Linked DNA regions of Homo sapiens: region 2 is linked to region 1. The links come from fine-mapping of genetic effects on gene expression. A gene starts in region 1. The other region holds a variant in brackets. All regions are shown on one strand. Distances are from middle to middle.

Evidence for each region.
Region 2: its variant is fine-mapped to the expression of ITCH in whole blood (TOPMed, PIP 0.91).

The regions. Positions count from the first base shown.
Region 1 is chr20:34,361,102-34,366,471 of GRCh38, forward strand. It overlaps ITCH (itchy E3 ubiquitin protein ligase), which reads left to right and starts at 2,172. Exons shown (of 25, transcript NM_031483.7): 1 at 2,172-2,248. RefSeq lists a silencer at 2,477-2,706.
Region 2 is chr20:34,334,592-34,339,961 of GRCh38, forward strand. No RefSeq gene overlaps it. Among named protein-coding and RNA genes, the nearest start is that of ITCH, 26 kb to the right of the region's middle. RefSeq lists enhancers at 3,669-3,778, 3,829-3,878. The variant C/G (reference allele first, on the strand shown) is at 3,228.

The sequences.
Region 1 (5,370 bases):
CAGGTGATCCACCCGCCTCAGCCTCCCGAAGTGCTGGGATTATAGGAGTGAGCTACTGCGCCCAGCCTTTATGTTTCTTTTGTTGTTTGTTTTTTGAGACAGAGTCTCGCTGAGTCGCCCAGGCTGGAGTGCAATGGCGTGATCTTGGGTCACTGCAACCTCCCCCTCCTGGGTTCAATCAATTATCGTGCTTCAGCCTCCCAAGTAGCTGGGATTACAGGCACCCGCCACCACACCTGGCTAATTTTTGTGTTTTTAGTAGGGAAGGGGTTTCACAAGGCTAGGCGTGGTGGCTCACCCAACTCTACTAAAAATACAAAAATTAGCCAGGCGTGATGGCATGCGCTTGTAGTCCCAGCTACTTAGGAGGCTGAGACAGGAGAATCACTTGAACCCAGGAGGCGAGCGGAGGTTGCAGTGAGCCAAGATTGCGCCACTGCACTCCAGCCTGGGCGACAGAGCAATACTCTGTCTCAAAAAAAAAAAAAAAAAAAAAAAGAGACGGGGTTTCACCATGTTGGCCAGACTGGTCTCAAACTCCTGACCTCAAGTGATTTGCCTGCCTTGGCCTCCCTAACTCCTGGGATTACAGGTGTAAGCCACTGACCCTAGCCAAGCCTAGGAGTCTGAGAACAGCCTGGGCAACACAGGGAGTCCACGTCTCTACAAAAATAAAAACAATTAGGATAGTGTGGTGGCTTGAGCCTGGAGTCCCAGCTACTCAGGAAGCTGAGGTGAGAGGATCACTTGAGCCCAGGAGGTTGGCTGCAGTGAGCTATGATTGCACCGCTGCACTCCAGGTTGGGTGACAGAGCAAGACTCTGTCTCAAAAAAAAAAAAAAAAAAAAAGTCACTTTGAAAAATGTGACTTTCCAGATGGCAAAATACTATTTTCATTAGGAGGAAACAGGCTAAACAGTAATAGCAAAGGTCACTAAGTATTGAGCACTTAGTCATACCTCTGAGTCTCTGCCTGCATAGCCTATTATTTCTCACAAGCAATCCATGAAGAAGGTTAAGACAACGGACTTTCACGCCAGACTGCCTGGGTTCTTATCAAGTATGTGACTTAGTTTATATATTTGTAAAATGGGGATAATAATGGTATTTCTGTAATAGGTTTGTTGTGAGAATAAAGGGAGCTTGGTATCAGCTCTTAGAATACCGGACAGGCCACGTTGGCTCCACTAAGCTGTTGTCATCATCCCTAAGGGCACCCAGTTAAAAGGTAGAAAAGGGAGGATTTGAATCCGGTCAGTGTAACTCTCAAGTGTACATTTTTTTTCTTTTATTTTCTTTTTAACCACGCCCTTTAATGTACATTGTTAAAGGCTAAGCCAGGCCAGGTGCAGTGGCTCACATCTGTAATCTCAGCGATTGGGAGGCCCGAGGAGGGAGTATCGCTTGAGCCCAGGAGCTGGAGACCAGCCTGGGCAACATGGCGACACCGTGGCCCTATTCCCGCCCCATCCCATCCGCACTCCACCCCATCCCCATCTCTACAAAGAATAGAACAAAATTAGTCGGGTGTGGTGGTGCTCAACTGCTGTCCCAGCTACTCAGGAAGCCCAGGTGGGAGGCTCGCTTGAGCCCAGGAGTGTGAGGCTGTAGTGAGCTATGACTGCACCACTGCACTCCAGCCTGGGTGAAGGGTGAGACCTTATCTCAAAAAGAAGAAAAAAAAAGAAAAGGAAAAGAAAAAGAAAAAAGAACAACTAAGTTATAAACTAAGCTATATAGCCCATTGGTTCTCAAATTATGATTTCACTCACTAGCAGTATCACTAGACAGCTTGTTGGACATGCAAATTATCAGACCCTATCCTCCTATGCCAGATCTTCTGATCAGAAACTCTGGGGGTGGGGGTCAGCAGTGTAAGTTTTAATAAGCTCTCTAGGTGATTCTGATGCACACCATAGTTTGAGAATCACAGTCCTTATAGGCTCTGGTGGGCGGGGTGTTAAAAAAAAAAAAAAGCCTGGAGGTGCTGGGAGCCGCTCGCGCCCATCTCACCTGGAGCTGAGGAAAACTGGGATTTAACTGATTTACCACCGCAGCCAGCTCTTCAAGCCAGGGGCGGGCCGGACGGCTGGCGCGCAAGGCCTGCTGGGGCTTGTAGTCTAGACCACTTCCGCGCTCAGGCGCCTGCGCTTTAGCTGCTAACTCGCTCTAGTAGCTGTGGTCGGGGCTCGGGACCGGCTGCCATCTTAGTCTAGGGACTGAGGAGTCGCCGCCGCCCCGAGTCCCGGTAAACCCCCGTGGGCGAACTCGGGGCAGTTCTCGGGAGAGGGAGGGAGTCCGGATGAGAATGTTCGGGGAGAACAAGGGTAGAGGAGTGGGACGCGCGGTTCGGGACCCCAGAGCCGCGGCTGCTCCTTCTTCCAGAGCCGGTGTCTGTCGGGGGCGCGGGGAGCTCGGGCTACTGGCCCGGGCCGGGCGGTGGGGGTGGGCTGTCTGGACGTTCGGAGGGATCAGTGTCTGGCACAGGCTTCCGGAGGCCTTCGCCTCGCGGGCTCCAAGTTGTGAAAGGGCTGGGCCACGACGGGCGTGGGTACCGTCCGGCCCCTCGCCCCTCAGCCCCGCCTGGGGCCACTCTCCAGCGGTTCGGCCTACGCGCGGGGCCCGGCGGCGGGGCCGGCGCGGGCGACGTGGCCCTGTGAGGGGCGGCGGCCGGGTCCCCCGCCACCCAGCTGGCCTTCTCGAGACTTTTCCGAGCCCCCAGTCGCTAGAAGGGCCCAGCACAGCGGCTGCCTCCCCTTCTCTCTCCCACTCGCCTCCTCCTTCCATTGTCCCCCCGGCGTGGTGGTCCCGGCTCCGGCGCCCTCCCCGACGTCCGCCACCGTCGTGGCGGCGCCGACTTTTGCAGACGTGGAGCTGTCACTGCCCTTCCTCCGGAGAGTGCCCTTTTCTTTAGCAGAGAAAAGAAAAAAGTAGCCGTTGAACGTATTCTAAGGGTCGAAGCATGATGACATGACTTTTAAGTGGAGAACTCAAGTTTTCCAAGACAGTTCCCGTCCGCGACAGAAAAGAGAATCGCAGAATTTGTGCGCCCGAAGTAGACGCTGGGCCTAAAGTTAGTTGGACATGTAACCAGGTGAACTTGTAAAGGGCCAGGAATTCATTATCCCCAATAACAACGCAACCTTGTTTTCTTGGTTGTATTCGTATCCTAATCTTATTACATTTTCTGCCATTCTTCCACAGCTACAGTATACTTGGTTTGGAGTGGGGGATGGGGAATTGTGGGATTTTTGCCTTGAAAATTAGTAAGACCCTGGAGCCAGCCACCCACTTAGGTGGGTTCTCCTGCATCTTTTCCTGATAGAATTCGATCTTCAGGAAGTATGTAAAGGCAGTGTATTTCCATTCTCAAAATCGGCTAAGGAATGGTTTATCAGTTGAGGTGAAGTTCTCATGGCAGATCTGCTGAGAGCTTGCTATGTGTATTTACAGGTTTATTTAAGCTACGATTTATTTTTAAAATTAAGAAATGGGCCGGGTGCTGTGTGTGGCTCACGCCTGTAATCCTAGCACTTTGGGAGGCCGAGGCGGGCAGATCATGAGGTCAGGAGTTCGAGACCATCCTGACCAACATGGTGAAACCCCGTCTCTACTAAAAATACAAAAAAAAAAAAAAAAAAATCCTGGGCGTGGTGGCGCGCGCCTGTAGTCCCAGCTACTAGGGAGGCTGAGGCAGGAGAATGGCTTGAACCCGGGAGGTGGAGGCTGCAGTGAGCCGAGATCTCGCTGCTGCACTCCAGCCTGGGCGACAGAGCGAGACTCCGCCTCAAAAAAAAAAAAAAAAAAAAAGCAATGGGATGGGTGTGGTGGCTCACGCCTGTAATCCCAGCAATTTGGGAGGCCGAGGTGGGCGGATTACGTGAGCCCAGGAATTGGAGATCAGCCTGGGCAACATCGTGAAACCCCGTCTCTACAAAAAATACAAAGATTTGCCGGGTGTGGTGGCAGGCGCCTGTGGTCCCAGATACTCAGGAGGCTGAGGTGGGGGAATCACCTGATTCCGGGGGGTCGAGGCTGCGGTGAGCTGTTACCGTTGCCACTGCATTCCAGCCTGGGTGACAGAGTGAGACCCTGTCTCAAAAAATAAAAAAAAAAATTTAGAAATGAAGGTGGAAATTCTACTGCTTCTTTGAACTGTGAATTTAAGTTTTGTGAGTCCAAAAGGAATTCCATTACATTCAGCATACAGGTCAAGTCACCAAGGATATCATATGAAATTAAAAAAATGAGTACAGACTACTTCTTCAGTGTATTCTAGAATCAAACATTTCTACATTCTTTAGAAAAAAATACATCTTTTTCGTTTGTTTGAGACGGAATCTAACTTTGTCACCCAGGCTGGAGTACAGTGGTGTGATCTCGGCTTACTGTAACCTCCGCCTCCCGGGTTCCAGCAATTCTTCTGCCTCAGCCTCCGTAGTAGCTGGGACTACAGGCGCGTGCCACCACTCCCGGTAATTTTTTTGTATTTTTTAGTAGAGATGGGTTTTCACCATATTGGCTAGGCTGCTCTCGAACTCCTGACCTCGTGATCCACCTGCCTTGGCCTCCCAAAGTGCTGGGTTTACAGGCATGAGCCGCCACTCCTGGCCCTAAAAAATACATCTTTTCACTTATTGGGAGAGGCAGACAAACCAGTAGTCCCCAAATTTGACCATTAGAATAATTAGGAGAGCTTAGAAATTCCAGGGTCTTACCTTCTGAGATGGATTTAGTAGGTCTGGGTTGGCTTCAACCAATTTATTTTTAACACATGCCTTAGGTAATTCTGATGGTCTTGGGAACCACTGAGGGCAAATGGTACTGTAGACTTACCAAGGAAAGGTCAAAAAGCTTTGAGACGAAAGAGGAAGTGGCCAATTCTGTGTGTGTGGCTGGGTGGAGGATTGGTTAGAAGAGGCAAGATTTGCCCCTGAACCCACATTGGGTCTTACATGAAGAGTAGGAGTGTGAAAAGGGCGGGGAAAGAGAAGGACAGGGTAGGCTGAGTGAATGCCTTAATGCTGTGTGTAAATTCAGAGGATTATGGAACAAAAAGGGTTCAGGGAGTGTGGAGTGGAATGGGGAAGGAGAGCATTTTGAAACGCAAGGTCAGAAAGGTTAAAGGAAGCAAGTATATGAAAAGTGATTTTTTGTTGTTGAGACTGGGTCTCACCCAGTCACGCAGGATGGAGTGCAGTGACAGGACCTCCAGAGCTCAAGTGATCTTCCCACCCCAGCCTCCCTGAGTAGCTGGGACAACAGGCATGCATTAGCATGCCTGGCTAATTTTTAAAATTTTTTTGTAGAGAAAGGTTCTCTTTACGTTGCCCAGTCTGGTCTTAACTCCTGTGTTCAAGTGGTCCTCCC
Region 2 (5,370 bases), 27 kb before region 1:
GCTGCAATTAGCTTATTATGTCATTAACTGTTACATGCATTCCAATTTCAAAGATATTAAAAGGTAAACAAATGTGCATCATAGAATCATTAAAATATGAGTCCCTAAGCACTGAAATTGGAAACAATGCCCTTGCCCCAATTTTTTAAAATGTCCCTGAACTGTAAAATAAATAAACATAAGGGGATTTCCCCAAGATGATTACTTTTAAGTTTTATGAGGGAAAATGGTAAATGTCAAATTCTGTCCCTAAACCATATCTCATCTCTTTTGTTCCTCTGTAAGGGCTGAATCAGCCTGTTGGGTGACCCAGGCCTGCCCTGGGGGAGGGAGGAAATCCACACAACTGAGTCCTTTGAGCCTCTCCCCTGCCCTGAGTTCAGTAGCAGCTGGAAAGGGGCCCAGCTTTATGGGGGAACAATGGTGCCAGCCAGCTTCGGGTGAAACAAGGCTGAACAGCCTGGCTGGGTCTGGCCTGGGTCCAGAAGAGTGCCCCTTGCACCTGAGGGGTCCGCTCCCCTTCAGCAAAGGACAGATGAAGCCAGGGAAAGTGGAGAAAGAACTCCCTGGGCTTTCTCCGTGAACAGCTCTCTACGTAGAATCCCAGAATCACCCAGCCAGAGGACCTCAGTGTCCATGGAATCAAACTGCTCCATTGTACAGATGGGAAAACAAAGGCCCCAAAGGGGGCTGGAGCTTGCCTAAGGTCCTTCAGTAAGTCAGTGGCAAAGCTGGAGCCACAGTCAGGTTCCCTTTAATTCAGCATGTCTACCATTAAGTGCAAGTCTGTGCGATCTTTTGCTGTTTTTTGTTGTTTGTTTGTTTCTGTCTTTTAAAAATGCCCAAATTGGCTGGGCGCAGTGGCTCACGCCTATAATCCCAGCACTTTGGGAGGCCAAGGTGGGTGGATCATTTGAGGTCAGGAGTTTGAGACCAGGCTGGCCAACATAGTGAAACCCTGTCTCTACTAAAAATACAAAAATTAGCCAGCGTGGTGGTACATGCCTATAATCCCAGCTACTCGGGAGGCTGAGGCAGGAGAATCGCTTGAACCTGGGAGGCAGAGGTTGCAGTGAGCTAAGATCACGCCACTGCGCTCCAGCCTGCGTGACAGAGAGAGACTCCTACTCAAAAAAAAAAAAGAAAGAAAATGTCAAATTATGTTGCTTGTACAAAATGTCTGTCTGACACATCAGATAGTGTCTGACTCACCTGCCCATTGGAATGAGAAGCTCAGGATCTCAAGCATGAATGCCTCCAGGATAGAGGAGACCTGTGGGTACATGCCTGCCCCTACTCCTTCAAACTAATATTTACTGTGACATAGTAACTTCCTGGCTTCAAAGCTCACCTCTAACGCTTCCCATGTATGTGACCTTGGGCAAATTACTTATCATCGTGGTAGTGGCCTCCAAGATGGCCCTCAATGATTCTCTCTTCCTACATAACCACCAGGCTACTGCAGAAACAGGTGTGACTTCTGAGGCCAGGTCAGAAAAGACAATGCAAGGCTGGGCACAGTGTCTCATGCCTGTAATCCTAGCACTTTGGGAGGCTAAGGTGGGAGGATCACTGGAGTCCAGGAGATTGAGATCAGCCCAGGCAACATAGCCATAAAACGAGACCTCACCTCTACTAAAAAGAGAAAAGAAAATTAGCACCTGTGGTCTCAACCTACTTGGGAGGCTGAGGTGAGAGAATCGCCTGAGCCCAGGAAGTCAAGGTTGCAGTGAGCTGAGATGACACCACTGCATTCCAGCCTGGGCAATAGAGCAAGAACCTGTCTCAAAAAATAAAAACAGCCAGGCGCAGTGGCTCATGCCTGCAATCCCAGCACTTTGGGAGGCCAAGGCAGGCAGATCACGAGGTCAGGAGTTCGAGACCACCCTGACCAACATGGTGAAACCCCGTCTCTATTAAAAATACAAAAATTAACCGGGGGTGGTGGCACGTGCCTGTAACCCCAGCTACTCAGGAGGCTGAGGCAGGAGAATTGCTTGAACTTGGGAGGCAGAGATTGTAGTGAGCCAAGATCGCACCATTGCACTCCAGCCTGGGCAACAGAGCGAGACTCCGTCTCAAAAACAAAACCAAACAAAAAAACAAAGAGACTGCAGCTTCCATCTTGCTCTCTTGGATCACTTGCCCTAAGGGAACTTAGCTGCTATGTTATAAGCACACTCAATGTTATATGCTATGTTATAAGCACAGCCCAATGCAGGGACACACACAGCAAGAAGTAACTGAGACTGCTTGCCAACAGCCAACTGCTTTGCCAGCCGTGTGCACGGGCCCGCTTGAAACTGTATCCTCCAACCCCAGTCCAGCTTCCAGATGACTGCAGCCCTGGTCAACATCTTGAAACTTATGAGATGTTTCTGGTGAGAATCACTCAACTAATCAGCTCCTGAATTCCTTGCCTATAGAAAATACCTGAGGTAATAAATGTTTATTGCTGTTTTAAGCTTTGTAGTTTTGGGGTAATTCCTGACACAGCCACAGACAATGAATACAATCACACTTTGCCTCCTTTTCCTTAAAATGAGGATGATGGGAGGACTTGCTTTATATAATCATGAGGATTCCATATGATACATGAAAAGAATCTGGCTAAGCTGGGTGCAGTGGCTCACGCCTGTAATCCCAACACTTTGGTAGCCCAAGGTAGGTGGATCGCTTCAGCCCAGGAGTTTGAGACCAGCCTGGGCAACACAGTGAAACCCCGTCTCTACAAAAAATACAAAAATTAGCTGGGCATGGTGATGTGCGCCTATAGTCCCAGCTACTCGGGAGGCTGAGGTGGGAGGATCGCTTGAGCCTGGGAAGTTGAGGCTACAGTGAGCTGTGATTGTACCACTGCACTCCAGCCTAGGCCACAGAACAAGACCCTGTCTCAAAAAATAAATAAACCAATAAATAAAAATAAGAAGAGTCTGGCTCATAGCAAATGCACAGCAGATAGGAACCAATATTGCTGTATTATTATATGGTCTCCACTAATCAAGAGGAGAGGTTGAGAGCTATATGAGGAAGGGCCAAAAGGAAAGATGAAGTAGCAACCCCCAGTCTCTTCATTTTCCTGGCAATTCAGCTCTGACTACATTTTCATAGAACCTCCTAAGACAGAAGCCCCATGGGGAAACTTGATCTCCCTAGAAGGCAGTGTAGGGACTATTTATCACTCTGCAAGCATTCCCCTTCGGGTGCTCAGTCTTCATCATCCCCAC[C/G]ACTAGAACTTATCAACTAATTTCTTGCTTATCTACTAGGAGTCCCCAGTCAACAGAATTGACTCCATCTCAGCACTTTCCAGGGACATTCCCAACCTCTGGAAGCTATCCAACAAAGGCTTCCTTTGCTCCTTAATTTATCTCTGAGAAGCAGGTTTAAATTTTAGCTCTGCTGGGTTGGGCACAGTGGCTCACACCTGTAATCCCAGTGCTTTGGGGAGGATGAGGCAGGCAGATCACTTGAGGTCAGGAGTTCAAGACCAGCCTGGCCAACATGGGGAAACCCCGTCTCTACCAAAAATTAGCTGGTCCTGTGATACACTAGCCTGTAGTCCCAGTTACTCAGGAGGCTGAGGTTAGAGGATCACGTGACCCCGGGAGGTGGAGATTGCAGTGAGCTGTGATGGCGCCGCTGTTCCCTAGCATGGGTAACAGAGTGAGACCCTATCTCAAAAAAAAAGACCTAAACAAAAATTTTAGCTCTGCTACCGATTTGTCCTTTGTCAAGTTACTCAACCCCTTGAGCCTCATCTCCTCGTCTGCCAAGCAGAAATAGCGAATATTTGCTTCCGGGTTGTTGGGGGAAGAAAATGAAGCAAGACAGCAAGGTATGAATGCTTTATTGGATGGAAATAATAAATTGTCAATGCCTCCGGACTCTCAGGTGCTGCTCAACGCCCTGCCCTGCCCCAGGAAGCTTCTCCCCACAGCGGAAGCCACTTAGCTCTCACATGCAGGCTCTGCCCTGTGCTGGGCTTGACACCAACTTTGGTGGTTTTTGTTTTTGTTTTCAAGATGGAGACTCGCTCTGTTGCACAGGCTGAAGTGCAGTGGTGTGATCTTGGCTCACTGCAACCGCCACCTCCCGGGTTCAAGCAATTCTTCTGCCTCAGCCTCCTGAGTAGCTGGGATTACAGGCGCCCGCCACCATGCCTGGCTAATTTTTGTATTTTTAGTAGAGACAGGGTTTTACCATTTTGGCCAAGCTGGTCTTGAACTCCTGACCTCAAGTGATCCACCCACCTCAGCCTCCCAAACTGCTGAGATTACAGGCATGAACCACCAGGCCAGGCCTCTGTTTTTTTTGTTTGTTTGTTTGTTTTGGTTTTTTTTTTTGAGACAAAGTCTCCCTCTATCACCCAGGCTGTATGTAGTGCAGTGGCACGATCACAGCTCACTGTAACCTCCACCTCCCAGGTTCAAGCGATTCTCGTGCCTCAGCATACTGAGTAGCTGGGAATACAGGCTTGCGCCACCGCATCCTGCTAATTTTTGTATTTTTTGTAGAGACGGGGTTTTGCCACGTTGGCCAGGCTGGTCTCGAACTTCTGATCTCAGGTGATCCACCCGCCTTGACCTCCCAAAGTGCTGGGATTACAGGCATGAGCCACCACTCCTGGCAGCTTTGTTTTTTAATCAGGGAACTTTTTTTTTTTTTTTTTTTGAGACAGAGTTTTGCTCTTGTTGCCCAGGCTGGAGTGCAATGGTGGGATCTTAGCTCACCGCAGCCTCCGCCTCCCAGGTTCAAGCAATTCTCCTGCCTCAGCCTCCGGAGTAGCTGGGATTACAGGCATGTGCCACCATGCCCGGCTAATTTTGTATTTTTAGTAGAGATGGGGTTTCTCCATGTTGGTCAGACTAGTCTCGAACTCCCGACTTCAGGTGATCCGCCCGCCTTGGCCTCCCAAAGTGCTGGGATTACAGGCGTGAGCCACAGCACCTGGCTTAATCAGGGAACTTTAACCAGATTTTATCTCTTTCATCAGGGGTTCAGCAGTAACTAGCATATGTGCCTGACTGAATGCCTCCTTCTTATGACCAAGGCCAGCTTAAGATAAATTATTTTTATTCCTATTTATTTATTTATTATTTATTATTATTACTTTTTGAGATAGAATCTCACTCTGTCGCCCAGGCTGGAGTGCAATGGCGCGATCTCGGCTCACTGCAACCTCCGCCTCCAGAGTTCGCGCCATTCTCCTGCCTCAGCCTCCAGAGTAGCTGAGACTACAGGCGCCCGCCACCACGCCCGGCTAATTTTTAGTAGAGACGGGGTTTCACCGTGTTAGCCAGGCTGGTCTCGATCTCCTGACCTCATGATCTGCCCACCTCAGCCTCCCAAAGTGCTGGGATTACAGGCGTG